Regions from separate parts of the Homo sapiens genome. Here all the other regions are linked to region 1. The links come from fine-mapping of genetic effects on gene expression. A gene starts in region 1. Each other region holds a variant in brackets. All regions are shown on one strand. Distances are from middle to middle. Region 1 holds the start of CTBS (chitobiase). Region 2 holds the start of LINC01461 (long intergenic non-protein coding RNA 1461). Region 3 overlaps SPATA1 (spermatogenesis associated 1). Region 4 overlaps SPATA1 (spermatogenesis associated 1). Region 5 overlaps LINC01461 (long intergenic non-protein coding RNA 1461). Region 6 overlaps LINC01555 (long intergenic non-protein coding RNA 1555).

Region 1 (5,076 bases):
AGCCTGTGATATAACAGATATCCTTAAAAAAAAAAAAAGCTGGGTGAACTAATTGAAAATATAAGGGGAAAATGCCATGTAGTCTAGTTTTTGTGTTTGAAAAACATAGAAAACGCCAGTAGAGAAAAAGACCATTTACCATGAAGATACAAATAAGCATAATTTTGCTTCTTTGAATAGTTGGTTTTCAAAGTGCCCACAGATATTGCCTAACCCACTAAGTATTGGGTACTACAGTAAATCTTTCAGGTTTTTTTTTTTTCTCTTTTTTGAGACATAGTCTTGCTCTGTCGCCCAGGCTGGAGTGCAGTGGCGTGATCTTGGCTAACTGCAACCTTCCGCCTCCCGCTCCGCCTCCCAGGTTCAAGCGGTTCTCCTGCCTCAGCCTCCCAAGTAGTTCGGATTACATGTGCCCGCCACCACGCCCAGCTAATTTTTGTATTTTTAGTAGAGACGGGGTTTCACCATGTTGGCCAGGCTGTTCTCGAATTCCTGACCTCAAGTGATCCACCCACCTTGGCCTCACAAAGTGCTTCTCAATCTCAAAAAGAGATTGAGAAAATTAAGAAATGTCTGGTTGAACTTTTACAGCTACTGTCCCCACTGCCTCTACCACCGCGCTGGGCCTCAGATTGTATAAAACATTTTAATTGGGAGGCCATTATGCTGAAACAGCTCCAACTGCCTTGGATTTCCTGCTTAAGCAAACTCCAGCCCAAGGTCAACAGTGAAAGGAAACTTAAGCTTAACCTATCAGAAACTGCCAACTAACCTCTAACTAGTAATTTTCCACCAAGTCATAGCTAAATAAGGCAAACAGTCATAGCCAACCAAGTAATTATTTTCCTTTGCTTCCCTGTTCGGCCTATAAAAGCCCATGCTACTAAAGCAGACCTCTCTGAACCCCTTCTGGTTTAAGTACTGCCGATTCATAAGTTGTTCTTTGCTCAAATAAAAAAGGTTATCCTACTTTGTCTGAAGTCTTTCTTTTAATAAGATGTTAGGTTTCCACACTAGGCAGGTTCTCCATAAACACTTTCACCATTTTTATTTCTTCTCCTAAGTCATGTATATATACTTTTTTACTGGCATCTAAGTGTTCTGCCTCAGATTAATGTACTAGATTAAGAACTAGGAATCATGCCTATTTCTACAAAAGAATCGTTCTTTGAATTAAGCCTTTGGACCTTCCTGATGTCATCCAATTCCTGCTTTCAGTCATCGAAGTGGGCAGTCAGGTGGTTTTAATATTGCTCCAGAAGGTGTTTGATTAAAGTTGCCAGAAGCCTTACAAATTGTTATGTAGATAGAAGGAAAATGTACTGAAAGCTATTTTTTTTACCACTCTTCATGGGTGGTTTTGAGGTACTTTAAAGGAAAGGGCTAGCAGGTATAGAAAACTAAAGGTAAGCAAAATACTCTGCATTCTAATGTACTGTTGGAGTGCTGAGATTCTTTCAAACGAAATCCTCGTTCCTTGGAAACATAAATGGATTATCCTACCTTGTTTGCTTTTTACACCCAGAGTGCTTCCGCAGAGGCACAGCAGGGGAATGAAAGGAGCTTGCCTTAGGAGGCAGATCTGGTTTGAACTCTCGCCTGCCTACGCAGGCACTTACAGGCTGTGAGGCCTGAGGAGTTACTCAACTTCTCTGAGCCCGAGCTTCCTCATCTATAAATTGAAGGATCCGTAAACAGGAAGGCCCTCATCGAGTGGTCAAAGCTGGTTTCGGCGCCCACGGCACCTCTCCTTAGGGCTCCGTTCTACCCTAACTTCTCTTCGTGCCCTGAAGCCCAGACCTAGAGGAGCAGAGGAAGGCGCTGACCTCGAAATCTGGATGGTGGCGAATCGGGCGGCAGAGCTCAGGCTCCGGGCATGGGCAGTCGGTCCCGGCCGCGAGCCGCAGCGCCAGCAGCGCCAGCAGCGCCAGCAGCGCTAGACCCGGGACGCCGCTCGGCGGGCTAGAGACGAGGCGCCAGCGTCGAAGCTGCGGCCGGGACATAGCAGCAGGTCTAGCGGGCCGGAGTGGGTTCCTACCGCCTGGGTGGGCGGGGCCTGCTGCGCGTCGGGGCAGGAAGGGGCGGGGAGAGTCGGGAAGGGCGGGGAGGGGCGGGAGGGGCGGGGCTCCGGGGCGGGCGTGGGAGGTCGGGCTTCGAGCGTCCCCGGGCGCTACAGGTGGGTGAAGTTAAGTGGCTGCTGGAGCGTCTCGGGGGACAGCCAGTGTCTGCGGCGCCGAGAGGGCCGTTCGTGGACTCAAATGGGTATCACCCCTACCGTTTATAGTCCTCCCAATAGTCTGCATCTCGTTTTGTCGTGGCTGGTCGTGTACTCCTTGTGGAGTCTGAAGGTACAAGGGGATCCCCAAAATGGAGAAGTGGGTGTCTTTGGAAGGGCCTACTGAGTAACATGGTTGGAGTGGCCAAAAGACTTTGTTTTTCTTTTGCTACTCAAAAGAAAGCTGGAATACCAAAAATTTTTACTTACGGATATCAGGTCTTAGTTAAGATCGTGGTTTGAATTCAAGCATCTAATTTTGCCTACTCTCCTGTTAAAAATCAAGTTTAACAACCTAAACACAAGGACAAAGAGATAACAGCAACAAAATGTTGGAAGCTGGAGAGCACAAGTATGAGTATGAGAGGTAAATCGGAAAAGGGGGAGATTAGTCAAAGGCTGCTCAAGGACTCTGATCGCTAGATCCTTTTTCCAGCTTCATGTCTCTGGGCAGCTGCCCCTCTTTCCCACCACGGGCTCCCACCCCGGCTGAATTCCCTGAAGGGGATAAATTCTCTGCTGAGTGGGTATTCCACCTAAAACGGAGAATAAGTGGCTTTATGCCTACTGAAAACTGAAACCCCTCGCTATCTGATTAACCTAAGAGGCTGAGCAAAGATACTGACATCGGGTTTTCTGGACAAATCATACACCCAGATCACCCTACAGTGAAATTCAAAGTTAAAAGCACCAGCTATCTACTTGGAGCTTCCTCTCTTTGTACTTTTTAATTTTTACTTTTAATCATGGACAGCAACCAAAAAAATCCAATAATGTAGAAAGAAGGGACCCAAACAACAGACAAAGGAATATGGAGGAAGCAGATGCTGCAGGGAGAACACTTTTAAAAATTCTCATAATAGCCCCAGAAAAATAAGAGAAGATGAAGCCACAACAGGGTGCAATAAAAGGGGTAGGGGATTTTTAAAAGTTAATAGAAATAAGAAAGAAGTGAAAAAACTATTAGTAGAAGATAACACTGAGGAATGTAGAGCAAAAACTCTGAAAGATAAGAAAATTGGAAAACGCAGTACAGAGGGGATGAAATAAATAATTCTTAAAGGTGCTTGAGAAGCAGCGTAGTACAAATAAGAAGAAATAAGTAATTTGGGCTGGGCACAGTGGTTCATGCTTGTAATCCCGGCACTGTGGGAGGCCGAGGTGGGCAGATCACTTGAGCTCAGGAGTTTGAGACCAGCCTGGCCAACATTGTGAAACCCCATCTCTACTAAAAATACAAAAATTATCTGGGCATGGTGGCAGACACCTGTAATCCCAGCTACTCGGAAGGCTGAGGCAGGAGAATCGCTTGAACCTGGGAGGTGGAGGTTGCAGAGATCACACCACTGCACTCCAGCCTCAGCAACAGAGTGAGACTCTGTCTCCAAAAAAAAAAAAAAAAAAGAAAAGAAAAGAAATAAGTAATTATCAAGGCTCCAGGACTGAAGAACACGCGTTTTCAGAATGAAAAGCTAGGCCAGGCACTGTGGCTCACACCTGCAATTGCATAACTTTGGCAGGCCAAGGCAGGAGGATTACTTGAGGGCAGGAGTTTGAGACCAGCCTGGGGAACATAGACCCTGTCTCTACAAAAAATAAAAAGCAAAAAATTAGCCCTGTGTGCCAGTGCGGTGGTAAAAGCTTGTAGTCCCAGCTGCTCGGGAGGCTGAGATGAGAGGATTGCTTGAAGCCGGGAGGTTGAGGCTGAAGTGAACTATGATCATGCCACTGCACTCCAGCCTGGGTGACAAAACAAGATCCTGTCTCAAAAAAAAAAAAAGTACAATTGAACCTCCATAACCAGAGGTTCCACATCCATGGTTTTAACCAATGTCAGATAACAGTATTTAAAAATAACAAATAATACAGCAATTTAAAAATGCAAATAAAAATACGGCAAGAGCACTGTCAACATAGCATTACATCGTATTATTATAATTAATCTAGAGATTATTTGAAGTACAGGAGGATGTGCATAGATTATGCCATTTTATATAAGGGACTTGAGCATCCATGGATTTTGGTATCTGGGAGTCCTGGAACCAATCCCTCATGATACTGAAATGTAACTATGTTTTTAACATGAATGGTTGCACTGAATCAAGTTTTCAAGGAAAAGAGCCTTCTGACTCATAGAATCAGACTGTATTCTGTGACACAGAAGAAAACACATATCTACCTGTGTTAGGGATCCCTAAGATCACCTCCAGGTTCAGTGATGCACTAAAAGAACTCATAGGACTCAGTTGTACTCACAGTTAAGATTTATTACAGCAGAAGAATATGAAGCAAAAGAGCAAAGGGAAAAAGTGCACAGGAAGAAGACAGGAGGAGGCCAAGCACAAGCATCACGTTGTAACATGTGTGAAGGGCTGTCTGCCATGGAAGCTCATTAGAGACTCAGGGAACAGCAGGAACACTCCCAAATCCACCTACAGGCCAACCTTCAGGAAGCAGGCCTTTCTAAAGATCGCAGTCTTAGGCCTGTTACGGTAACTCTTTTCTGCATACTAACCAAATGAGGAATTCCTACATATTTGTATTGAATTTTATATTGGTGCTGTACATTCTATGGGCTTTGACAAATGTATAATGATGTGTATCCAGCATTATAGTATCATACAGAATAGTTTCACTGCCCTCAAAATTATCTGTGCTCTACCTATTCATTCCTCTCTCCTTGCTAACCACTGGCATCCACAGATTTTTACACTGTCTCCATAGTTTTGCCTTTTCCAGAATGTCACATAGTTGGAATCTTACAGTATATAGCTTTTCAGATTGGCTTCCTTCACTTAGTA
Region 2 (5,076 bases), 46 kb after region 1:
TTAATTTACCTTTAAAATTGTGATTAAAAAATACATGTATTTAAAATAAGTCACTTACATGTACAAAGTCAAACCAGAACACCCCTGCCCAGCAGCATGCCCAAAAGGGGAGTCTCTCAGGCTTTGCACACACGCTTCTCACAAATGCCCCAGTGCAGGCTTTGGTTTAGGGTTCCATGTGCTAAGAATACAGCATCAAAGGCTTTTCTGCTGGGAAGGAAAGGAAGAGACTTGTAATGTCTATATAGCTCCCAAAGACAAAAAGACTCTAGGTTGATTAGAACAAGCTTCAAATCAGAACTTGGGTTTTCTGCCTTCAAAAATCAAAGAAAATTTTAAAAATTGCTTTTGAAGATTCAAAAAGAAACAATGCGGCCGGGCACAGTGGCTCATGCCTGTAATTCCGGCATTTTGGGAAGCCGGGGCGGGCAGGTCGCTTGAGGTCAGGAGTTTGAGACCAGCCTGGCTAACATGGCGAAACCCTGTCTCTACTAAAAATAGAAACATTATTAGCTGGGCGTTGTGGTGGGCGCCTGTAGTCCCAGCTACTTCGGAGGCTGAGGCAGGAGAATCGCTTGAACCCGGGAGAAGGAGTTTGCACCTAGCCGAGATCGGAGATCATGCTCCTGCACTCCAGCCTGAGCAACAAAGCAAGACTCCATCTCAAAAAAACAAAAACAAAAAACAAAACAAAACAGAAAAAAACAAGACAGAAAGAATGCCCCTTTGTAAAGGTTTTTTTAAATTCACAGAGACTTGATAGCATCACCATTGTGTTTGTTATTTCCCAGAAGCCAGCAGGGAACGTTCTCTGCTCCTGGAGCTGGTAAAAATACAGGAAGTAGCCAAGGGCATTATAATCATTAGTCACTGAGATACAAACCTTCAGTTCTGTTACCCAGGGAACCTAAAGTGCTGCTTGGTGTAGGTGGGAGATGATTAATCTCTCCGTGCACGATAAAAAGACAGAGCTGCCACCCGGAATTAGTCTGTTTATGTAGAATGAGGACAGCCCCAAGAGTAGATGGGATTTAAAAATAGTAACAATTCTCCCCCAACCCCAAATACACCATTTCTGAATGTTGTAGAACATTCAGGAAACAAGAATCATTCATAATTCTACCCCTAGAAGTTACCAATGTTAACATTTTGATTAATACTGTAAACAGAAAAATCAAAGTCTGTAAAATATCTGAAAGAGAGGCTTAGTCAAGCCAGTATGAGTAACCTCCGCCCCCGGAAAACAACCCAAGAAGCCTTGAGTAAGTGGTCCCGAGGCAGCCGCATGTGTTTGGTTTTATACATTTCAGGAGGGCAGGAGTTACAGGCGAAGACAGAAATCAATACAGGGCACATATACATTAGTTCAGCAGAAAAGGCAGGCTATCTTGAAGTAGGGGGCTTACAGAGGTAAGCAGGGGTTTTATAGATGATAGGCAGATTCAGAGATTTTTAAAATTTGCATTAGAGGAGTAAGGCTCTAAAACTTGGAGTCAGCAGAAAGGACTGATTTTTAATTTTTATTTATTTATTTATTTATTTATTTATTTATTTATTTATGACAGAGTCTTGCTCTGTTGCCGGGCTGGAGTGCAGTAGCGCAATCTCGGCTCACTCCAACCTCCGCCTCCCGGATTCAAGTAATTCTCCTGCCTCGGCCTCCCAGACAGCTGGGACTACAGGCGCTTGCCACCATGCCCAGCTAATTTTTGTATTTTTAGTACAGACGGGGTTTCACCATGTTGGCCAGGATGGTCTCAATCTCTTGACCTCATGATCCGTCCGCCTCGGCCTCCCAAAGTGCTGGGATTACAGGCGTGAACCACAGCTCCCGGCCGAAAGAACTGATTTTTTAAATACACGTTATTTGAATTTTTCACAACTACATATTATTATGTATTATCTCCCTCCCTCCCTTCCGTCCTTCCTTTTTTGCAAAACCAATGCAATCACTCTTGGGGTCTCGGGGGCAATGGGATCACGTCAGGCTCAGGCGCTCCCCTGGGCGCACGCTGGGTGAACAAGCCGCCTCCGGGCGAGGGTGGAGCTCCAGCGGGGAGGCTCTGGGCGCAGGAG[G/T]CTTACCAAGAGGAGTCCGCGGCAGCCCGGGCCTGCCCCGCGGGCTGCTCTGGGCTACTGGGATCTCACCCCGCGCTCGGCGAGGCGGGCCCGCGGCGCCCTCTGCAGGGAAGCGGGTGGCGCACGCATGCTGGGCGCTCCAGTATTTGTGGCGGGGTGGGCTTCTGGTTAGGGTAACATCTGCATCTCCGCTTCACAGCGTACAAGGTGCCTTCCACTTTGCGCTGGCTCTCCCGCGACCCTGGGATGCCTTCTGTCCTCCACCGGAGAGGACGCTGAGAATCGCCGTTCCTGGCGAAGGGCTAGAACTCACCAGCGCCCGGCTCCATAGCGCCCTCTGCCGGGGCCGAGGGGCGGGGCACGCGGGCGGCCGAGCGGGCGGGCAGGGAGGGCCTCAGATCCCCCTATCCCCGCGGGAGGGGCTGCCAGCCTGGGTCAGCCACGCGTGGCTTCCTGAGACTGGGTTATGGCTATTTCCCACCTCCTTGCCTCTCCCTCCTTATTTCCCTCCACCTGTGTGTGTGTGTGTGTGTGTGTGTTTCTAAAGCAAAAACAATTTTTTTTTCTATTCTCCAAAGTAATGCGTATTCATTATAAAAAAATTTTTTTGGGGGGGTAGAAAACACAGCATAAAAAAGAAAATGAAATACCTTTAATCTCATCATTCAGAGATAAACACATGTTTAGGGTATTTTCTCCTAGTGTCTTTTTCTATACACAATTATATATCATGGTAAGTATATATTTAAACCAACCAGGCAATGCTGTCGAGGAGTCAGGCCCCGTGTCGAACTGGCGCCGTTGAAGAGAACACAGAACGGCCAAATGGCAGGGAGTAGGGGCTCCCTGGCCTTAAAAACGGGGCCTTGCTGCTTCTTGGTTTGATAAACTGCTCTGGTTCCCAAGAAAGCTTGTCTTTTCCTCCTCAGCTGTTGGCTGGGGGTAAGTAGGTGGCGGTGGTCAGTGGGTCCCGGGAGGAAGAAAACTTGGTCTCAAAGTTCACTTTCATAACTAGAAGGCTCGGGCCGGACGCGGTGGCTCACGCCTGTAATCTCAGCACTTTGGGAAGCCGAGGGGGGCAGATCACTTGAGGTCAGTAGTTCAAGACCAGCCTGGCCAACATGGTGAAACCCCGTCTTTACTAAAAATACGAAAAATTATCTGGGCATGATGGTGGGCGCCTGTAATCCCAGCTACTCGGGAGGCTGAGGCAGGAGAATCGCTTGAACCTGGGAGGCGGAGGCTGCAGTGAGCTGAGATCGTGCCATCACACTCCAGTCTGGGCAACAAGAGTGAAACAACGTCTCAAAATAGGAAAATAAAAAACTAGAATGCTCAGAGAGTATTTCATCATATGATGGAACTTCAGCCCCCATCCCAACCCCTGGACCCATGCTTCTTCCTGCTGAGTTTCACTGACTACATGCCTCCCTCCTAGGCTGTGAGTTCCCGACTGGGGGAACAGTCTGGGCCTTTGCACCTTTTTCCTTCACCTGGCAGAGTGCTGAAGTCTCTTTGGTCACTGTCTTTGTCTTTTTTTTCCTCCACACAAACACTCTTTCATATAGTCATGTTTCTGATTTGCCAATGTCACCCCAGATAAGCACACAAGCTAAATGAAAACAATGTGTTTGCTTTGCACATGCAGTGTCAAAACAATGCACCCCCATTCCTTCCAGCTAGATTGGGCCCCCTAAGTGACACTCTTCCTTATGGAAATTCTGAACCTGCCCCTCTCTGCAGGATGTGGTTAGAGTTTGGATTACAGTCATTGATTTGGGAGTGGTGTATCTACTTCACTGTTTACATGTAGCATCCTAGGCTCTGCTTCTATCTCTCTCTCGCTCTCTCTCTTTCTCTCTTTCTCTTTCTCTCTCTCTCTCTTTCTCTCTCTCTCTCTCTCCCCTTCTTTTCTCCCTGTCTGGTCATCTGCAGCCTGATAGAGGCTGAGGCAGAGAGAAGAGCCTGTAGGAAAAAAACCATCTTTGGTGGTGATGATGATGTGGTGTGTGGAGATACAAAGTCAAATTCTCCAATGTTTCTATCCCCATGAAATGAAGTCTCTAGTGAGATCAACATTGCTCAGCAATGCTTAGTAGAGTATATTTTCCTGTGTGGAAGCATGAGGAAGGGGTGCATTCCCCTTCTGCTTGGTAAAAATAAAGGCATCAGGAAGTATTGGGTTGGTGTAAACGTAATTGCAGTTTTTGCCATTAAAAGTAGTGACCAAAACCGCAATTAATTTTACACCAACCTAATACAAGCCAGCACCTGGGTGACACTGGTAAGACTGGTGGACCATGCCTGGTCTGGCCAGTTTGCGTTTTTAATAGAGTCAGCGAGTGGGGTAGAAAGTCTGCAGTATTCAGTTAAAGGCCCAAGTTCTTCTTAGTCTGCTTATTAGCTATGTGCTTCTGAGTAAATTACCTAACCTCGCTTAAGCTTAGTTTGCTCATCCCAAAAGGAAATAAAAATATTACCTGACAGTTATGTTTCCTGATTGCTGTGGGATTCAAATGAGCTAGAAGGAGGGAAGTTGTTGTCTTGAAGCAGCATTAGTAGATTTTCTAAACTTGGTAGCATTACACCTCCTTACATTTGATTCTCCCAAGCCTGCTGGGTAGCTTGATGGAGGAAACATGACAGAACTTGACTGCACGTAGTGGCAGTAACTCACACTTGCCCAGATTTTGAACTGGAATCATCTTTATTGCAGTTGAAAAACTAGGCTTAGAGAGTTTGAACAACTTGCCCAAAGGAACATATCTTGGCCATGAAAGGGCCAGTACCAGAATGTAGCACCTAAGACTTTTAGATGGTACTTCCACCATCTCCAGTAGAAGATGGGAAAGGAGTGTTCCTTGGGATTGCCCAGGGCATGACTGTCCCCTTGCAAGGGACACAGAGAAATGGGTGGAAGATGTCAGATTCTTAAGTGTTCACTAGTGGGAGGGTGAGCCCATTATTCTCTATGCACTTAGAATCTTTTTCTCTTTAATA
Region 3 (5,076 bases), 38 kb before region 1:
TATCTCTATTTTCAGATGAGAAAACGAAAACACAGAAAGTTACATTAATTCTTCCACGGTTATGTCTTTCATACCCATTGGACAAAATTCCAACCATAGTTAATAAATCACAAACTTCAAATGAGTCTTTAATTGTGCCAACAAATATACTACATTTTCTTGGTCCATTACTATTCTTCTAGACAACTCTGTCATACCTTCTCCTCAGACAATCAAGACCTCCTTTCTCTTGCATTCTCAGTGATAATTTTTGTTAAATAGAGGTAATTTGAAGAGAACCACGAATCTCAAAATTTTATGTACAGAATGAGGTTGTGGTTGTGGTTCAGTTGAGATCCTCAGATACCCACCTCCTACACCATTTGTTAAGACTTTATTTTTCCTATTGCATTATTCAAAACTCAGTTGACTCTATAAGATCTAGGACAACTTCTAGCTTCCCTTTCTGCTCAATGATTTTTTTTAATCCTTACGCCAATACCACATTATCTTCATTACTGAGGCTTTATAAGTAGTTATTGTTATCAGATAGCGTAAGATTTCCAAGTCAATTTTTTTTCAAGATCATTTTGGTGATTCTAGATTCTTTGTGTTTTCATATACGTTTTAGAATCAGCTTGTCAATTTCTTACCAAAAGACTACTGGAATTTTGAGTGAAATCACCGTGAATCTGTCAATCAATTTGGGAGGAAAACTTATATCCTAACTATACTTAATCTTCTAATCTGTGAACACAATATATTTCTCTATTTATGTCACTAGTTTCTTTCAGCAGTGTCTGTGGTTTTAGTGTATTGCTCTTATATCTTAATATTACATTTATTTTTAGATATTTGGTATTTTTGAAGCTTCTATAGAATGGTATTTTAAAATTTTTATTTTCTAATTGTTGCTAGTTTATAGAAATGTAATTGATTTTTATACATTGAACTCATCTATTGAGATTTTGCTAAATTCAATTAGTTCTATCAGGTTTTTTTTTTGTAGATTCTTTAGGACTTTCTACGTACATATTCATGTCATCTGTGAATAACAATAGTTTTACTCTTTCTTTCTATTTTTGTTATGAATTAAGTGTTTTTTCCTCCAGCTTCCTGAGTGTGAGAAGTTGTAATGGCAATAATAATGATGGCTTCTTGCTTTCAGCGTAGTTCTGGTGATGGCCTCAACAATGGTAATTTCACTAATGGAAACATCATTTTAGGAGACCAGACCTAGAACCTGCTCCTCCAGTCTTTCTGATACACTTAATTTCCTTTATTACATTTCTTCCTGCTTAAACCTGCACTGAACTGATTCAGTATTTGGTACAGAAAGTGTGACATGGGCCAAAAACTTTTACAAATGAGAATCTCAGACTGGTTATTGCAAAAGAACTGCAATATTTTGTTAATTCATGCTAGTAGAAACTTAGAAAAATATTATTGGAAATAGATTCAGAGCAGGAATGAAAGAATATAACTTTAAATTGGCTCAAGTTTAATAATATGGATACACTTATCAGAGATTCTGGATTTAATGTGCTAGCTCCAGCAACTGTGAGTGGTAAAAAACATTTTGCTAAATTGAGTGAGGCTGACAGAAACCTGGACAATATGGTGGTTCATACTGAGTAAATTTAGAATGCCAAGAATTTCTTGTTAAAAAGTAGAGCAAGAAATCCGAAGACTTGGGGATATAAAAATGTTAAGAGGAGATTTATATCCACTTTTTTTTCTTTTGAGACGGAGTCTCGCTCTGTCGCCCAGGCTGGAGTGCAGTGGCGCTATGTCCGCTCACTGCAAGCTCCGCCCCCCGGGTGCATGCCATTCTCCTGCCTCAGCCTCCCGAGTAGTTGGGACTACAGGTGCCCGCCACCACGCCCGGCTAATTTTTTTGTATTTTTAGTACAGACGGTGTTTCACCGTGTTAGCCAGGATGGTCTTGATCTCCTGACCTCGTGATCCGCCCGCCTCGGCCTCCCAAAGTGCTGGGATTACAGGCATGAGCCACCGCACCCGGCCCACTTAATTCTTTAACCAGACATTGGGGAAATATATTGGAAAGGCAACCCCAGAATTCTTTTAAAAAACCTTATAGTGGCTGTTTTGTGTCACATGGAATGAAGATAGGACTATACTTGATTTGTTTTTTCT[T/C]TTTTCTTTTTTTTTTTTTTTTGAGATGAAGTCTCACTCTGTTGCCTAGGCTAGAGTGCAGTGACACCATCTCAGCTCACTGCAACCTCTGCCACCCAGGTTCAAGCGATTCTCCTGCCTCAGCCTTCCGAGTAGCTGGGATTATAGGCACCTGCCACCGCGCCCAGCTAATTTTTGTAGTTTTAGTAGAGACAGAGTTTCACCATCTTGGCCAGGCTGGTCTTGGACTCCTGACCTCGTGATCCACCTGCATCGGCCTCCCAAAGTGCTGAAATTACAGGCGTGAGCCACCACGCCCGGCCTACTTGATTTCTTTAGAGATGACAGTATCCCCGAAGAAGCCAATTTACAGCATTTTACTATATAAGAGAAAACAGTACCAGAGTGATCATAAGGATGTATGATTAAGAAATCCTTGACAATAGTTAATTGCCAAGGTGTCCCTAAGACTAATCATGATGTTCCTGAGACTGAAGTGGATAAGCTATTGGATAAGCTTTGGATAGCTTACTGAAGCTACCAGTAAGCTATTGGTCTGTAAAACCAAAAATTATTTTTAGTCTTCACAAATAGACGTCTACCTTGAATAACCACATGAAGATTCACATCCCCTTATTAAATTACGAGACCTTAGCCAGTTTACATACCCAGAACTTATTGAGTGAAGGGGAGGCCAGGTATCCTTGAGGAAAAACCCTGTCACTCAGCCACAAATATGGACTAAATTTCCTTACCTTCCTAAATTTCCTTTACCTTCCTTAAGGGGATGAGAGGTTGTTTACCCAGATGACTACAATGGAGAAAGGGAGGTACCCATACTTTTCAGGATTCATGGCAATGGCTTTGATGTGATTCTGATCGTTGGGGACCTGAATAACTCTGTGTTCCACCAATAGGGTGGAGGTTTAGAGGGGTCAGATAATAAGTGAAGTTTTAGCTAAATCAGTCTTCTGGTGTGCTGAATGGCTTTGCAAATTCTCCCTGTAGCCATTCCCTTAATTCATGAATGTATACTTTGAAGGACTTACTCAGCAAATGGCAGAATCCTCATACTGCCTCCCTGATGCTTGCAGCATGGGCAATAAGGAATGTTATAGTAGAGAGGGCCAAGTGAAATATGATGGAATGGCCTATTCATTACCAAAATAGTAAACCAAAGCATTACCAACCTCCTGGACAAATTGTGGGTTTTGTGCCATGATCAAAACTTGAAAATGGCAGAAAAGGTTATTCCTGTCATAGCCACATTCAACTCACCTAGTTGGTCTGTGGAGAAGATTAATGGGCCTTAGTGTCAAGTGGTGACAATTGTAGCTGCTACTCCTTACATCCTCTCTTTATTAGAACAAATTATTACAGCCTGATGCTCCTATTATGCCATTCTTAATCTGGAAAATGCTTTTTTCTTCATCCCAATTAGCAGAGAAAACCAAAAGTAGCAAATAGGAATAGCAGTAGACCTTCACTGTTTTGCCTAAGGGCTGTGTCAATTCTGGCTCCTTGTCGTAATCTAGTTTATAGGCAACTTGACCATATCATGATCCCCTTGGACCTGATAAACAGGAAATACCAAATAATCTAGATACCTTAGGTAAGACATATGTTTCTTAGGGGGTAGGAGATAAGCTGCAAGAAAATTTAGGAGTCTATCAATTCAGAGAAATTTCAGGGAGCTCCATGGTCTGCGACATGTTGAGGTATCCCCTTGCCCCAGCTACTATTGAGAATGAAACAAAGCACTTTGTGGACCTTTTTTGGAATTTGTAGAGAGATTTACTGCATTAGGATGTGCTGCTCTATTTTTTATTTAAACCAACTGAATCAGAAGCCTGCCAACTTTGAGTGGGACTTAAACAAGAGAAGGCTTGTAAGGTGATCCCAGAGGGATTGCAAGCAATGCTGCCACTTGTGGGGTTATTGGTTTTGGTTTTGGTTTTGCTTTGAGACAGGGTCTCATTCTGTTGCCCAGGCTGGAATGCAGTGCAGTGTTCACAGCTCACTGCAGCCTTGACCTCCCAGACTCAATCCATCCTCCCACCTTAGCCTCCTGAGTAGCTGAGACTACAGACACATGCCACCACACCCAGGTAATTTTTGTATTTTTTTGTAGAGTTGGGGTTTCTCCATGTTGCCCAGGCTGGTCTCCAACTCCTGGACTCAAGCAATCGGCCCTCCTCAGCCTCCCAAAGTGTTGGGATTATAGGCATGAGCCACTGCACCCAGCTCACTAGTGTTTTAATGTCTGTCCAGATTATCCAGTGATGCTTGATGTATAGTAGATTGGAATGCTGAATGGAGTCTGTACAAGCCCTGGTAGGAGAATCACGGCTCTAAGCCCTTGGGTTTGGGAGCAAAGGCATACCATCTTCAGCAAATAATTGTTGTTATATTGTTGCTGGATACTTTTATTGTTTCCAAATTTTACCTATTATAAACAGCACACACAAACAAGAGAGGAATATATACTTATGTGTAGAATTGCTGGAAAATGTCTATCTATAACTTAAATAATGCCAAAATGTATTCCAAAATGATTATACAAATTTACGCTCCCGCTAGGAATCCAAGACATTTCCTGTTACTCTACATCCTCAATAATACATACTGTCTTCACACTTTAAAATGTTTTCCACTCTGGTGGATGCTCAATGCTATTTAACTGCAGTTTGAATTTTTTAATTTCCCTGGTTACCCTTATATTTTATGGACCCCATTTTGATAACCATTTTTTGGGGGGGTTACCTGTTTTAAGTATTTCTATTGGGTTGTCTGCCATTTATTTCTGGTTAGTAGGAGTTTTTAATATGCTCTGGAAGATAGTCCTTTGATGTTTATGTGTGTTGCAAATATCTTCCTCTACTTTGTGGCTTGTCTGTGGTTTACCTTGCTGAATACATCAAGTATTCCATATTCTTAATTTTTTCCACATTCTCTATGTCT
Region 4 (5,076 bases), 31 kb before region 1:
GTGTTTCTTAAATCAGGAGCACCCTCTTCTGCTGCTGTAGTGAAATGCAGGTTTTTGAGTTTTTTTTGTTTGTTTGTTTTTTTGTTGTTGTTGTTTTATTTTCATTTTTCTTGAGATGGAGTCTCGCTCTCTTGCCCAGGCCTGACTGCAATGGCACGATCTCAGCTCCCTGCAACCTCCATCTCCCAGGTTCAAGCAATTCTCCTGCCTCCCGAGTAGCTGGGATTACAGGCGTGCGACACCACACCCGACTAAGTTTTGTATTTTTAGTAGAGACGGGGTTTCACCATGTTGGCCGGGCTGGTCTTGAACTCCTGACCTCAGGTGATCCACCCGCCTTGGCCTCCCAAGAAATGCAGTTATTTATGTTTCTTTTTTTAAGTAAATGGGGCCTTTTGGGGAAATGGGTATGTTTTCTTTGGATTCTTTTCCACTAGCTTAGTTCAGTGGAGCTCTTGCCTTGGCCATTTTCTTCTTTTTTCTTACCAAACTGGCTCCCAAGGACATCTCTCCCTTTCAAAGCATTTTCTTCTCTCCCAGAAGCTATGTCTTACCATGATTACTGCCTCTGACTCCCTGTGTTTTTCAAATCCTTTCTTTTGAATTCCTCATAGAATCTACCAGGTTTTTTTTCTTTGCTCTATTTTTCCACTTCAGGTAGAGCCCTCTCTTTCCAGGCTAACTCGTGATTGGTGTTTGCTATTATTTATGTACAGTGCTGACACATAGTCCATATCTGACTCTCTGCTCAGATGTGGGCTCCTGACCACACTCTGATCTAGTAGTCTTTATTTCCTCACTTACATGTAAAGGATTCTGTGCCCAAATTATGTTGTAGGCATAAATTTGGGTGGTTTTACTTGGCTTCTTTTTATGGTAGTTTGGAAGATTTGTGGAGCAATTCTAATTTAGGTGGCTGCCATTATCCTGTGGGAACTCAACTTTATAACATAACAAAATAAATAAGCTAGAAAAATAATACAGTACTCTGCCCTTTATCTGTCGTTCCAAGACCCCCTGTGGATGCCTGAAAACACAGATAGAACTCAACCCTATATATACTATATATACTGTGTTTTTTCCTGTACATATATACCTATGACAAAGTTTAATTTATAAAGTAGGCACAGTAAACAATAACAAAAACAATAATAATAAAATAGAACAATTATAACAATATACTATAATAAAAGTTATGTGAATGTGGCCTCTCTCTCTCTAAAAGTATCTTATTGTACTGTACCGTGGGTAACTGAAAGCACAGAAAGTGAAGCTACAGATAACGGGGACTAACTGTAAGACAAACAAAATAGAAGTGAGAGCTTGATGAAGATAAAAGTGAAAACTAATGAGGTACCGAAGCATAATTGAAAACAATTCAAGATCGATAAAGTGATAGTGGGAGAAACATCAACATGGTAAGGCTTGAGGTAATTCATCAAAAAGGGTAGATATTAGTCTGTTCTCACACTGCTATAAAAAATACCTGAGACTGGGTAATTTATAAAGAAAAGAGGTTTAATTGGCTCACGGTTCTGCAGGCTGTACAGGAAGCATGGCATCATCTGCTTCTGGGGAGGCCTCAGGGAGCTTTCAATCACGGTGGAAGGCAAAGGGGGAGCAAGGCTGGAGCAGGAGGAAGGAGTGGGGGAGATGCCACACACTTTTTAAATGATCAGATCTCACAAGAACAAACTCACTATCAGGGGAACAGTATCAATGGGGAAATCTGCCCCCATGATACAATCACCTCCCACCAGGCCCCACTTCCAACACTTAGGGATTACAATTCAACATGATATTTGGATGGGGACACAGATCCAAATCATATCAGGTAGAAACACAAAAATTAGGAAAGATGAAGGCAACAGAAACACAAACACAGAGGAGATAAGATATATTAGAATAAAATGTAAAATTATCTGCTAAAATTTTGACATGTGACAGAACTACCAATTTTCTAAGCAAATATAATCAAAATTGACTCAAGATGAAAAAAATATTAATAGGCATCTTAGAAAATATTTAAAGTTATCATAACAGGTAACTGAGACCAGAAATCTTGGAAGGAAATCATGTTTAGAAAGAAAAATAACAGATTTTTTT[T/A]AAATTTTAAGTTTGAAGTACTTGTTTATAATGTCCAAGTAATAGAATACAGAGACCAGAACATGGGAGAGAATCTGCAGCTATAAATACAAAATTTGGAGTTCATCACCACTAAGTAAAAAGAATGCATTTCTGGTTTGCATTATCAAATACCTACGGGCAAGTGAAAAAAGAATGTGACAGTGTAGCCGATCTTACTCATTTTCACGTTTGCTTACAGACAGCTGAAAAAGAGTACATCACCCTACCAGATCACCCTTCACTTCCTTGTCAACCTGTTCTTTCTTCAGGAATAACTGATATATCTTTATTACAAACTGAAAGTAAGTATAGTGCAATCGTAAGTACAGATGATTCTGTGAGGTAAAGTAAATAATGTTAATGGGGAGTTACTGTTTAATGGGTATAGAGTTTCAGTTTGAGAAGATAAATAAGTTCTGGAGATGGGTGGTGGTGATGGTTTCACAACAGTGTGAATGTTGTGCCACTGAACTGTACCATTTAAAAATATTTTAAATGGTACAGTTTGTTATGTAATATGTTCTACAACAATAAAAAAGTTAAATTATAGGAATTTTATTTTTATTTTATTTTTTTTAGACAGAGTCTGACTCTGTTGTCCAGGCTAGAGTGCAGTGGCGTGATCTCAGCTCACTGCAACCTCCGCCTCTCGGGTTCAAGCGATTCTCCAGCCTCAGCCTCCCGAGTAGCTGGGATTACAGGCGTGCACCACCACACCTGGCTAATTTTTGCATTTTTAGTAGAGACGGGATTTCACCATGTTGGCCAGGGTGGTCTCAAACTCCTGGCCTCAAGTGATCCACCCATCTCGGCCTCCCAAAGTGCTGGGATTACAGGTGTGAGCCACAGCACCTGGCCCAGGGATTTTATATTTATTACTACATATGTTTAGTCACCAACATTATTTCATTTTAAAATATATATTCTGGCCAAGCATGGTGGCTCATGCCTGTAATCCCACACTTTGGGAGGCTGAGGTGGGTGGATCACAAGGTCAGGAGTTCGAGACCAGCCTGGCCAACATGGTGAAACCCCATCTCTACTAAAAATACAAAAAAATACAAAAAAATTAGGCGTGGTGGCAGCTGCCTATAGTCCTAGCTACTTAGAAGGCTGAGGCAGGAGAATCGCTTGAACCCAGGAGACAGAGGTTGGAGTGAGCCAGTATTGCACCACTACACTCCAGCCTGAGCAACAGAGTGAGACTCCATCTCAAAAAAATATATATATATTTATATATCATATATATATCATATATATATAATCCTAAAATATACATTTTCTATGTACGATTTAAGTACAATAATTTTGAATCCCAGATAAATTTACCAAAAGAGTTAAACCAAAGAATATCAGCATAACTGCTTGAGCTTTACCTAGTTTCTACACATATATGAAATGCAGAAAAAACACACTATTTTATAAATCTCCTTATATATCACTCTTGGAAACTGAAATGACTCCTTTGCATTTTCCACATGGTAAATGCTATACTGTAGCAAGAAAAACAGTTTGGGATAAAATTTATTCTTGCTGCTTTAGACATTTTTAAGTTTTACACTCCATATTTTAGGATATGAGCCATCTTTCAGCTTTGAGACATTGATGAATATGAGTTATAATCTCTTTAGGAGAGAAGATTATCAAACAAATGAAACAAGTAAAGGAAGAAAGAAGGTATCTGGAAAGAAATAGAGAAGAACTAGTAAAAACGGTTGAAAAGCTATTTGAACAAAGCAAATTAAAACGATATCATGGTAAAGTTTATTACATACCTTTTATCACTATAAAGAAAACTTAAGTTTTACAGAATTGATCCTTTTAGAATAAATAATAAAGTTATAATTAATATTTACTGTTTTACTATTTTAGTTTAAGTGGTACATGATTAAGTTCAATATAGAAAACATGAAATTATTATGCAACTCTACTTTATAGAATAAATGCTTTACATAGGGTTTAAAATTAAAACTCAAATATTTTCATAACTGAAACTCATTAACTTGTTTATTAATTCTTCTATTCATTTATCAAATGCCTATTGAATCTGGCCACTATTCTAGGGGCTTAGGAGACACTATTAAGACAGACACAATCTTGTCCCTGCCCACATAGATCTTACAGTCCAGTGGGGAAATGATAAGCAAGTTAAGCATCAATGATACATCCTTGCCAGCGCAGTGGTTCATGCCTGTAATCCCAGAACTTTGGGAGGCCGAGGCAGGCGGATCATTTGAGGTCAGGAGTTCGAGACCAGCCTGGCCAACATGGCGAAACTCCGTCTCTACTAAAAATACAAAAATTAGCCTAGCCAGGTGTGGTGGTGGGCACCTGTAGCCCCAGTGACTGCAGAGGCTAAGGCAGGAGAATGGCTTGAACCCAGAGGCGGAAGTTGCAGTGAGCTGAGATTGTGCCACTGCACTCCAGCATGGGTGACAAAGCAAGACTCTGCCTCAAAAAAAAAAAAAAAAAAAAAAACTTGATGAAAACTATGATAAAGGAATTACAAAGTTCTATGGATAGGAATACAAAGGGAGAACGCCTAAATTAGATGGAAGAGATCAAGAGAGGCTTCCAGGAAAAGTGTTGGATATGCTAGGATCTGAAGTACACTCTTGGTTCTAGGTCTTCGGGCATGCTTTTCCCTCTGCCATCTACTTCTCCTCTTACCTTGAGGTACCCTCTTCCCAGTTTACCTGCCTATTTCCTATTAGTCAGTCAAGATCACCTTATATATCACTTACTGTAGAAGCCTACTTTGAGTCCCTTGGTCTCTTCTGTACTTAATTTTTTGATATGTGTGTGTGTGTGCCTTGCTTTTAAAAGTGAATGAATGAGGGAAGTTAAGTAAGTTTTCTTGCAGTACAATTAGAAACAGTGTTGTTAGGACTGGTGGACTGATGAGGCAGGATGAAGACAGTACATGATGGTGGCTTGAGAGTTGCTAAA
Region 5 (5,076 bases), 21 kb after region 1:
CCTGCGGGACAGAGTGAGACACTGTCTCAGTGGTGGCACACTCCTGTAATCCCAGCTACTCAAGAGGCTGAGACAGGATAATCATTTGAACCCAGGAGGCAGAGGTTACAGTGAGCCAAGATTGCGCCACTGCACTCCAGCCTGGGTGATAGAATGAGACCCGGTCTTAAAAAAAAAAAAAAAAAAAAAGCTTATCCACCATAATTAAGGAGCTTTCATCCTCAGGATGCAAGGTTGGTTCAACATATGCAAATCAATAAATGTGATTTATCACATGAATAGACCTAAAGACAAAACCCACATGATTATCTCAATAGATGCAGAAAAGGACTTGATAAAATTCAACATCCCTTCATGTTAACAACTCTCAATGAACTCAGTATTAAAAAAACATACCTCAAAATAATAAGAGCTATATATGAGAAACCCACAGCCAATATCATACTGAATGGGCAAAAGCTAGAAGTATTCTCCTTGAAAACTGACACAAGACAAGGATGACCTCTCTCACCACTCTTATTCAACATAGTACTGGAAATTCTGGCCAGGGCAATCAGGCAAGAGAAAGAAAGAAAGAAAGGCTATTCAAATAAGGAGAGAGGAAGCCAAACTATCTTTGTTTACAAATGAAATGATCCTATATCTAGAAATCCCCATTTTCTCAGCCCCAAAACTTCTTAAGCTGATAAGCAACTTCAGCAAAGTCTCAGGATGCAAAATCAATGTGCAAAAATTGCTAGCATTCCTGTATGCAAACAACAGGCAAGTGGAGAACCAAATCATGAATGAACTCCCATTCACAATTGCCACAAAAAGAATAAAATACCTAGGAATACAGCTAACAAGGGAAGTAAAGGACCCCTTCAAGGAGAACTACAAACCACTGCTCAAAGAAATCAGAGATGATACAAACAAATGGAAAAACATACCATGCTCATGGATAGGAAAAATCAATATTGTGAAAATGCCCATATACTGCCCAAAGCAATTTATATATTCAATGCTTTAATAAAACTACCATTGACATTCTTCACAGAATTAGAAACAACTATTTAAAAATTTATATGGAACCAAAAAAAAGCCCGAATAGCCAAGACAATCCTAAGCAAAAAGAACACAGCTGGAGGCATCATAGTACCCAACTTCAAACTATACTACCAAGGCTACAGTAGCCAAAACAACATGGCACTGGTACAAGAACAGACATATAGACCAGTGGAACAGAATAAAGAATCCAGAAATAAGGTTACACACCTATAGCCATCTAATTTTCAACAAACTTGACAAAAACAAGCAATGGGGAAAGGATTCCCTATTTAATAAATGGTGCTGGAAGAACGGGGTAGCCATATGCAGAAAATTGAAACTGGACCTCTTCTTTACACCATACACAAAAATCAACTCAAGATGGATTAAAGACTTAAATGTAAAACTCCAAACTATAAAAACCTTAGAACAACCCTAGAACAAAATCTAGGCAATACCATTCAGGACATAGGCATGGGCAAAGATTTCATCATGAAGACTCCACAAGCAATTGCAACAAAAGCAAAAATCAACAAACGAGATCCAGTTAAACTAAAGAGCTTCTGCACAGCAAAAGAAACTATCATCAGAGTGAACAGACAACCTACAGAATGGGAGAAAATTTTTGCAATTTATCCATCTGACAAAGGTATACAAGGAACTTAAATAAATTAACAACAACAACAAAAAAATTAAAAAGTGGGCAAAGGACATGAACAGATGCTTCTCAAAAGAAGACATATATGTGCCCAACAAACATATGAAAAGAAGCTCAACATCACTGATCATTGGGGAAATGCAAATCCAAACCACAATGAGATACCAGTCAGAATGGCTATTATTAAAAAGTCAAAAAACAACAGATGCTGGCAAGGTTGTGGAAAAAAAAGGAACGCTTTTACACTGTTGGTGGGAGTGTAAATTAGTTCAACCATTGTGGAAGACAGTGTGGCAATTCTTCAGAGACCTAGAGGCAGAAATACCATTTGACCCAGCAATCCCATTACTGGGTATATACCCAAAGGAATATAAATCATTCTATTATAAAGACACATGCATGCATATGTTAATTGCAGCAGTATTCACAACAGCAAAGAAATGGAATCAACCTAAATGCCCATCAATGATAGACTAGATAAAGAAAATATGGTACATATACACAATGGAATACTATGCAGCCATAAAAAATGAGATTATGTCCTTTGCAGGGACTTGGATAGAGCTGAAAACCATTATCCTCAGCAAACTAATGCGGGGACAGAAAGCCAAATACCACATGTTCTCACTTATAAGTAAGAGCTGAATGATGAGAACACAAGGACACATTGTGGGAAACAACACACACTGGGGCCTGTC[G/A]GAGGGTGGAGAAGATAAAAGGGAGAATATCAGAAAGAATAGTTAATGAATGCTCGGCTTGATACCTAGGTGATGGGATGATGTGTGCAGCAAACCGCCATGGCACACGTTTACCTATGTAATAAACCTGCACATCCTGCACATGTAGCCCTGAACTTAAAGTTTAAAAAAAAGGCAACAAAAAACCTTTCCTAAAGATTTGATCTTACATCAAGTAAACCCCAATTATTTTTGAGGAGTGCGTCTTCCTTCAAAATAACAGATTATACTCTCAAAGCTTTAAAAATAAAACACCCACACTCATACACACAAACTGTGTCAGAGAAACATTTCCAGACTGTTAGTGGCACTTCTGTAAATTCTGTGAAAAGATTTTGTGTCCTATTATATTCTTGAAAAATATTTTGGTTTTTTAGGATTCAAAAAATGAAAGGTTTCAAAAGCAAAGACAGTAGCAAAAGCGGCAGCAGGTCAGTGACACCTCGAGCTCTGACACAGCAGCAGCAGCTGCCACCTCAACAGCAGCCTCCATGGCCACGAACTTGTGTTATGTGAAACATAATTTTCCATATAAAATTATATTTAATATTTAAAAATAATAGAGACATGATAGGGAATATTAGAATCCAATTTTTCTACTTGAATTTTTCTTTTTCATTATAGAGCCCCATGTTATGGTTGAGCATGAGAAAAATGGTTTCATATTAACAGTCCCTGATTACAGCATTGAACTTTATGATGAAAAACCATGCAAGGTCCTCCTTCCTGTACTACTTTAGTCCAAATAACCATCACCTCTCTTTGGGCTGGCTGTAATAGCCTTCTATTTGAACCTCTTATTCCCTCAAAGCAGCCAGAAGTATCTTTCAAAATCATAAATCAAATCTTACCACTTTCCAGGTGGGTGTGGTTGTGCACCCCTGTAGTCTCAGCTACTGAGGAGTCTGAGGCAGGAGACTCATTTGAACCTTGGAGTTCTAGTCCAGCCTGGGCAACATAGAGAGACCTCATCTCAAAAAATTGAAACAAATAACAAAAACAGAAACGAAAAATGAAAAAAAAATCTTACCACTTTCCATCACATTCCAAATTAAATACAGAGTCCTTACCGTGGCCTCTAATGCTCTTAAACTCTGGCAGGTCTGGTGTCTGGTGAGGGTCCAGTTTCTGCTCCCAAATGGCACCTTTGTGCCACATCCTCACATGGCAGAAGGCTGAAGGGCAAAGAGGGTTCAAACCATGTGTGAAGGCTATTCTTTAAGGGCTTTAATCCCATCCATGAGGGAGCAGTCCTCATGACCGGATCACCTCCTAAAGACCCCACCTCTTAATAGGATTGCTTTGGAGATTAAGTTCCAACATGAATCTTGGAGAGGACACTTTCCAATCATAATAATGAGGAAAAATGAATACTTTAGTAACAATTTCTTTGGGCCACAGACACAAATCAACCGATTTGACCACGTTTTTCCAATGAAATGACAACCTTAAATTGATCATTTGTGATGTCAGGTAGTCATTTTGGGATATTTATTTCTTGCAATAACCTTTTGATGGAGTTATTATGACTCCCATTTTACAAACGATACAACTGAAGCCTAAACAGGCAAAATGACTTTTTCATAGTCACACAGCTAATAGCGGTAGAGCTGAAAATGAAAATCTCCTGATCCTTGATGTTCTACCATCCCGGGTCCTACTTTAATTGGGAAATGGCAACCTCATTCAGCTCAGTGAAGGCTGGGTCACTTGCTAGGTTACAACTTCAGTGATCAGGGCACTTCAGTGGCTCTTCAGAGTTCATTTGTATATAAGTGAAGCTCTCCCTTTTGTAGACTTCTCTCTGTGTAAGTACAAACCAACCAGAGGCATGGCTATTGCTTTCCTGTCACTTAGGAATGAAATTAATGACTCCTTTATGTCCCATGCCAGGCAATCATCTCAATAGTTTGTGCAAGCTTAGCTTATCTACACAATATCAAACAGGCAATCACAGTTCTCCCATGATGCCAGGCAAAACAGAACTTTGTTTCTCCTACATAAAAGAGCACAACATCACAGGTTTAAAACCTCTCACCCTCAGTTTCATCTCACTATTATTGTGTTAAACATGCTTAATGAAAAATCTGGGCTGGGTTCTTTTCTGTCTTCCCACAATGAAAGTCACAGGAATGGAAACTCGGTTCCAAATGTTTCCATGTGGAAATGAAGTTGAGAGAAAGCAGTCTCATAAGTATGTGTTAAGTGCCTGTGGAAGCAGAGTCTCATGTTAGACGCAGTGACATTCAGGAACAAATCAGAACACATATTCTTGGCCTCCTGAGCTATCATTGTTGTTTGAAGAATGGAGCATTTACCATCTAATAAAAAAGTGAAAGCCTAACACACAAAATCAATTTTAAGACAAAGGCTAGGACTTCTCAATTTAGAAGAGGAGATACTTGAATTTTTCTCACACATCATCCCTCACCAGGGCTCCTGAGTAGAACATCTCAGACAACGTAGGACATAATTTGAAAAGTACTGATCAAATCAGTACAGCACTGATTAAAGAGCAGGTATTGAGTGCCACGCCCATTGGGTGTTGATCCAGGGAAGAAGCTGGGAGCCCTAGTCTTGGAACCCACCTGAGGATAGCCTAGAATGTCGTTCATGTACATAGTCTTCAACCTTTTTTTGCAAGGGCTGAGGTCC
Region 6 (5,076 bases), 52 kb after region 1:
AGAAGCAGGAACATTTAGAGATGACTTTTGAGGACAGGATAAGGTGAAATACCTCACCTAAAGTCAGAACTTTCACATTAGGATTTATTCGTCTCTTTTGCCCAGGTGCAGAGGATGATAAACAGCTTTCTCACTGCCCGTGCTAAGTGCTCATTGTGTTCAGGGGTGAGTCTTGCAGTCTGTGGCTCCTGTGACTGTGAGCACTGCTCAAGGACCAGTTTGGACACCCAGCCACCGGGAATAGAGCTCAAGCCACCATGCAGTTAATCGCTGTAGCTGAACCAATGTGTCCAGACAAAATGAACTATCTAAGATGATGTTCATGTGCACACAGGCACACACCATGCTGTCCCTGAGGGATAACCCTTTTGCTGTAGGCTTCTTTGAGAACCCCTTTTCCGAGCTACCTTTCTCACTGCAGTTGGTGACAGTGGGGGCACAAGGACATCATGCACATGATCCTGTCCTCAGGGAGAGAAGAAAATGAGGCTCCTAGAGCAAGCCCCGCCAAACTGAGCCAGTGCTAGCTCCGTTTACCCAGATATTAAGTTAAGCCAATTATATAGTACAATAATTCATCTTTTGAAAATTCACTCTCAGCCTTTGGGGAGCTGTGAATAGGATTTCTGCAAAGGTTGTTGTTTAAGGAGAGAGCCTTCTTCTCTCCAGTACATATGAGCAGAGCAAAAGATAGGTAGGGCCTGGAGGCAGCATTTTCAGAGCTTCTACTATCTCTCCTGCCATCAGCACTACTGCCCCCATTCCCCTCACTTTCCTTTGTAGTTTATTAGGGAAAAAAGGGGTTTCTCAGAAGGTGGACGTACATGCACAGGCAGCTTCCAGAAAGTACTCAATGCAACCCTAATATTCTGATTTGGGGTACCTCATTTCTGACCACCCTCCCCCAGCCAGGGTCAGGCAGCAATGGGTTAAGCTAACTATTTTCTGCAGGAATTCCAGGAGAAACGCTTTAGACAACTCCTTCCAAACCTCAATGAGAAGAATATCCTGTGACTTCAATGCGGAAGTGATCAATTTCAACCTGCAGGTAAAAAGCTGCTATGGTTTGAATGTGTCCGCTAAAAGTTTTGTGTTGGAAACCTAATCCCTCTGTTCTCATAAATTGATTAATGGTGGCTCCGCTCTCATGAATGAATGGATGTCACCATCGTGGCTTTTTTTGTGAAAGCAAGCTGTGGCTTTCTTGCTCTCTTGCCATGTCATGCCCTCTGCTATGTTATGATGCCGCAGGAAGGTCCTCACGGATGCCAGTGCCATACTCTTGGACTTCCCAGTTTCCAGAACTGTGAGCTAAATATACTTTCTTTCCTTCATAAATTACCCAGTCTGTGGTATTCTGTTATAGCAACAGAAAACGGACTAAAACAAGAGCCATCCAGTTTGGAGAAAGCCAACACCAGCAATCCATCAGTAGCCTGTGATCCAGGGATATGCGGGATGTAGAGTTACTTCATTGCCATTACCATGGTCTCTGAGGTGGTGAGTTCTGAGCTCCTACAGCACTGCTGCAGTGGGTCATTTCTGTTTCTTGTTTTTTGTTTTTATTTAGTGGGTCATTTCTTGATAGCAGTCTTGCATCTCAGGTGAGTGTTTTTTTCCTCCAGTCCTCACATGGCGATGTTTATGTGCACAGCACACATCCTCCATGCTAATAGTTAAACCATACCTATCTCTCTCAAAAAAACACAACAACAACAACAACGAATAAACTGCAATCGTGTGGGAATAACAGTAAGGATACGATTGAATTGGGCCTAAATTACGTTAGAAAAACAATGCATTCACAAGCATTAATACTGTATCGTAGTTAATTTCCTGCCACATAGCTGTGGGTGAGAACCACTGGCCTGGTCCATGGGATTGGGTTTCTGCTCAGATGCTGTGAGGACTAGAACCTGAACATCACCTGAATTCCTGACCACTTCCATTGCCAACTCCATCTCCTGGTGGAATGAACCCTTTGCCTTGTATTTCCAAATGCAGGTTGGCATCCTACACTGCAGATTGGGTGGGCCACATTGCCAATGCACTTTCAGCCATTTGTTACAGACCTCAAAGCAAATGCAATGAAAATTTCATATTTCAAAGTCCATTTAACTTATAATTAAAGAGCTTCACCTAACCTCCAATTGGAAGTGATTAATTTGGAATGTAATGGCATCCTAAATGACAAATATTAAGCCAATAATCTAATTCTATAAACACCTTCCAAACAATAAATATGTTCAATTAAAATGATACGTTCATGGAAAGATGTTGGTATTAGGTAGAACCTATCTGTGTGAAAGGACATTTTTAAGGACAAA[A/C]TATGTAAAATCTCATTGCAAGTTGACATTAACCAATTAAGATTTGCAATTAATTTTGATGGTAGAGAAAAGTAACTTTAAAACTGATTACTGCTATTTTGTTATGAATTTCATCAATAAGAAAATTGTGGAAATTTGTTTTCTCTCTTATTATGTAAGTAACTACATTAATATTCTCGATTTTACCTCTCGGTTAGCAAAGCTTAAAATATTTATTATCTGGCTCTTGAGAGAAAAAGCTTGCTAACCCAGCTGTAGTCTAATGTATCCTATGTACCTGGAACTGTGTCTAACATATAGTAGACACTCTGTCAACATTTATTGTATGACTCTGTTCTGAAATAAATAATAAAAGAGACTAAACATTAGGAATCAGAATGCTTCTTTAACAATTTTAAGTAAATGATATTCTTCTTGTAACAATTTTTCAAGAGGTCTAGAGTTGTAATCTAAACACTGTCAGTGGCACTAGGGTTCACTTTATATATTTTATTATTTTAAGACATAATCAGTTGGACATAAATCATAAATAACAGCTTTTCAGAAAAACAAGCCAAGTATGTTTAATGTATACATTGAGCATAAAACATATTCCAGTTTCATAAACTTTAAAATGTTAAAATATTCACACACACACACACATATATATATATATATTAGTGTGTGTATATGTATGTATGTATATACATGAACAAAAAATTAGGAAGTCAGATGATATTTCACATGTTCCCTGCAGTTTGGGAATAACCTTTAAGTCCAGGTAAAATAACTATCCCCGAGTCATCTAAGGACAGGAGCTGCAGTGTCAGGAGAATAAGAGTTTGTCTTGTCTCTTATCTAAGCCAAGGAAGAGGCTGTATATTCGATGTGATCGGAGTCCCCTCCACTTCCCAGAACTTGGCTGGGGAGGACGTACTTATTAATAAATAAGTATATTATATATTATGTTAGAAATGATCATTACAATAGGAAAAAAGATAAAGCAGAGAAAGGTAAAGGGATATCAGGAATGTCAGGGGTCGGGGGGTTGGTTTGCAATTTGAAGTAGGGTGGTCAGGATAGGCCTCATTGAAAAGTAGTAAAGACTTGAAGTAGAAAAAATATAAATGGCTAGTGAAAATGTGAAAAAAAATCTTCAAGTTCAGTAGTAAAAGAAAAAAAAAGACAAGAAGAACAAGAGAATATTTTATTTATAAAACCAGCAAAGGTAACAGCATAAAAAATACCCAATAGTTCTATCGTGTAGTGCTAGTGGAAATGTGAATTAATAAACATTCTTTCTGAGGATCATTTGACAAAACATAACAAAAGCCTTAAAAATATGCGTATTTCTTGGTTTAACAATTCCAATTTCAGGAATTTATCCTAATCAAATAAATAAGCAAGTATGCAAAGATATATTCTTTAAAAATCTTTATTGTCTAACTAGGAAAAATTAAACAATTATTAACCATTCATGCAGTGGCCCACCAAGCAACAACTAATAATGATGTAGATCTATATGTATTGACCTAAAAGATCCCCACTAAACATGTGTGTGTGTGTGTGTGCGTGTGTGTGTGTGTGAGAAACCCCCTGGAAACTCTCTGGATACTTGCAGGGTGATTTGCCTATATTTTTAAAGTTTTCTTCATGGAATATGGAAATACCATGGGTCGAAAGCAAATGCCATTTGGGGATAAGACTGCCATGCAAAGGACCTTGGACTTCCTGCAGGAGAGAAGAGGGTCATTGCTAGGAGACTCCCCTCATGGTGTCCATGAACATGGAGCCCTGACACCATGTTGTTTCTGAAAATGAGCCAACGTTGACATGGTCCTGGCCCACTGGGTGTTGTTCACTCTGTTGATTACTTTTGGAAATTACTTTAGGTAAATGCCATGCTTGACAGTTGGTTTTTAATTTTAAACACAAGCTGCCATTGATTTGCTTTGATTATTCCACGATTTCAATCACTTTCCCAAAACTTTGTCTTCCTTAATTTTCCTGTATCAACCAGATGAAGGTGTTCACAGAGGGATACTCAGAACAGTGTATTAACAATAGCTCTGTCTACGAGTTGGCCGTTAGACACACTTATAAGGGATGCTGATGTTCCAGGGAAGGATCCTGTGCTAACTGATAGGTGCCAAGCGTTCTGGTTTTCACTCTGCCTTACTGGGCCTCTCAAGTTCACAAGTGTTCTCAGAACAAATCCTTCAAGAGCCAATCCTTCAAGATGGATCCCAAGTACCTAACTGGGCCAAAATTTTAAAGAGAGCCAAGTGGCCAGGCCATTTGCTGACTAGAACTCATATACTCGGAGTTTCCCTGGAAACCCCCAACCTCAGTTTAACAGTGGGGCTTTCAGAGCTCACCTAAAGCAGCCAATCAGAGCTCATCTGAAAGAACCAATTAGGGCTCAGTTCTAACCACTAATCAGAATGCAGCTGCATCAACCAAACAGAACTAAGCAAATTTAAAGCCTTCATTTTCATAAAATGGACCTGATTGGCAACCTGAGCATGAACTTTTACTATAAAACCAGGATCCTCCCTTTGTTCTCTGGAAAGTAACTGGTTTACACAGAAAGTTTGTGAACTGTTCCTGAATGAAGTCTTTCTTCCAAATTTCTTTTCAGAGAACTTTTGTTCACAGATCCATGCCAGGGCAGCTATGCTTTTATTCGATTCACCCAATGGGGCACATGCCAGCTAAATTAGGCCCCTCCCCCGAAATCTAGCCCAAGATAATGAAATGTGGAGATTAA

What was found. PIP is the estimated chance that this variant, and not a neighbour inherited with it, causes the effect.
Region 2: its variant is fine-mapped to the expression of CTBS in prefrontal cortex (CommonMind, PIP 0.95).
Region 3: its variant is fine-mapped to the expression of CTBS in blood mononuclear cells (TOPMed, PIP 0.95).
Region 4: its variant is fine-mapped to the expression of CTBS in whole blood (TOPMed, PIP 0.97).
Region 5: its variant is fine-mapped to the expression of CTBS in whole blood (TOPMed, PIP 0.99).
Region 6: its variant is fine-mapped to the expression of CTBS in whole blood (TOPMed, PIP above 0.99).

The regions. Positions count from the first base shown.
Region 1 is chr1:84,572,413-84,577,488 of GRCh38, forward strand. It overlaps CTBS (chitobiase), which reads right to left and starts at 2,028. Exons shown (of 7, transcript NM_004388.3): 1 at 1,827-2,028. The coding sequence starts at 2,003. RefSeq lists enhancers at 618-667, 1,381-1,480, 1,591-1,880 and a silencer at 2,041-2,160.
Region 2 is chr1:84,618,675-84,623,750 of GRCh38, forward strand. LINC01461 (long intergenic non-protein coding RNA 1461) reads right to left here and starts at 2,357. Exons shown (of 3, transcript NR_125761.1): 1 at 2,083-2,357; 2 at 59-210. RefSeq lists silencers at 2,160-2,229, 2,320-2,559. The variant G/T (reference allele first, on the strand shown) is at 2,077.
Region 3 is chr1:84,534,740-84,539,815 of GRCh38, forward strand. All of the region lies in intron 8 of SPATA1 (spermatogenesis associated 1), which reads left to right. Among named protein-coding and RNA genes, the nearest start is that of GNG5, 31 kb to the left of the region's middle. The variant T/C (reference allele first, on the strand shown) is at 2,137.
Region 4 is chr1:84,541,876-84,546,951 of GRCh38, forward strand. SPATA1 (spermatogenesis associated 1) reads left to right here. Exons shown (of 14, transcript NM_001397487.1): 9 at 2,327-2,429; 10 at 3,759-3,884. Among named protein-coding and RNA genes, the nearest start is that of CTBS, 30 kb to the right of the region's middle. The variant T/A (reference allele first, on the strand shown) is at 2,107.
Region 5 is chr1:84,592,940-84,598,015 of GRCh38, forward strand. LINC01461 (long intergenic non-protein coding RNA 1461) reads right to left here. Exons shown (of 3, transcript NR_125761.1): 3 at 5,025-5,076. Among named protein-coding and RNA genes, the nearest start is that of CTBS, 21 kb to the left of the region's middle. The variant G/A (reference allele first, on the strand shown) is at 2,383.
Region 6 is chr1:84,624,734-84,629,809 of GRCh38, forward strand. LINC01555 (long intergenic non-protein coding RNA 1555) reads right to left here. Exons shown (of 3, transcript NR_027379.1): 3 at 3,497-5,076. Among named protein-coding and RNA genes, the nearest start is that of LINC01461, 6.2 kb to the left of the region's middle. The variant A/C (reference allele first, on the strand shown) is at 2,328.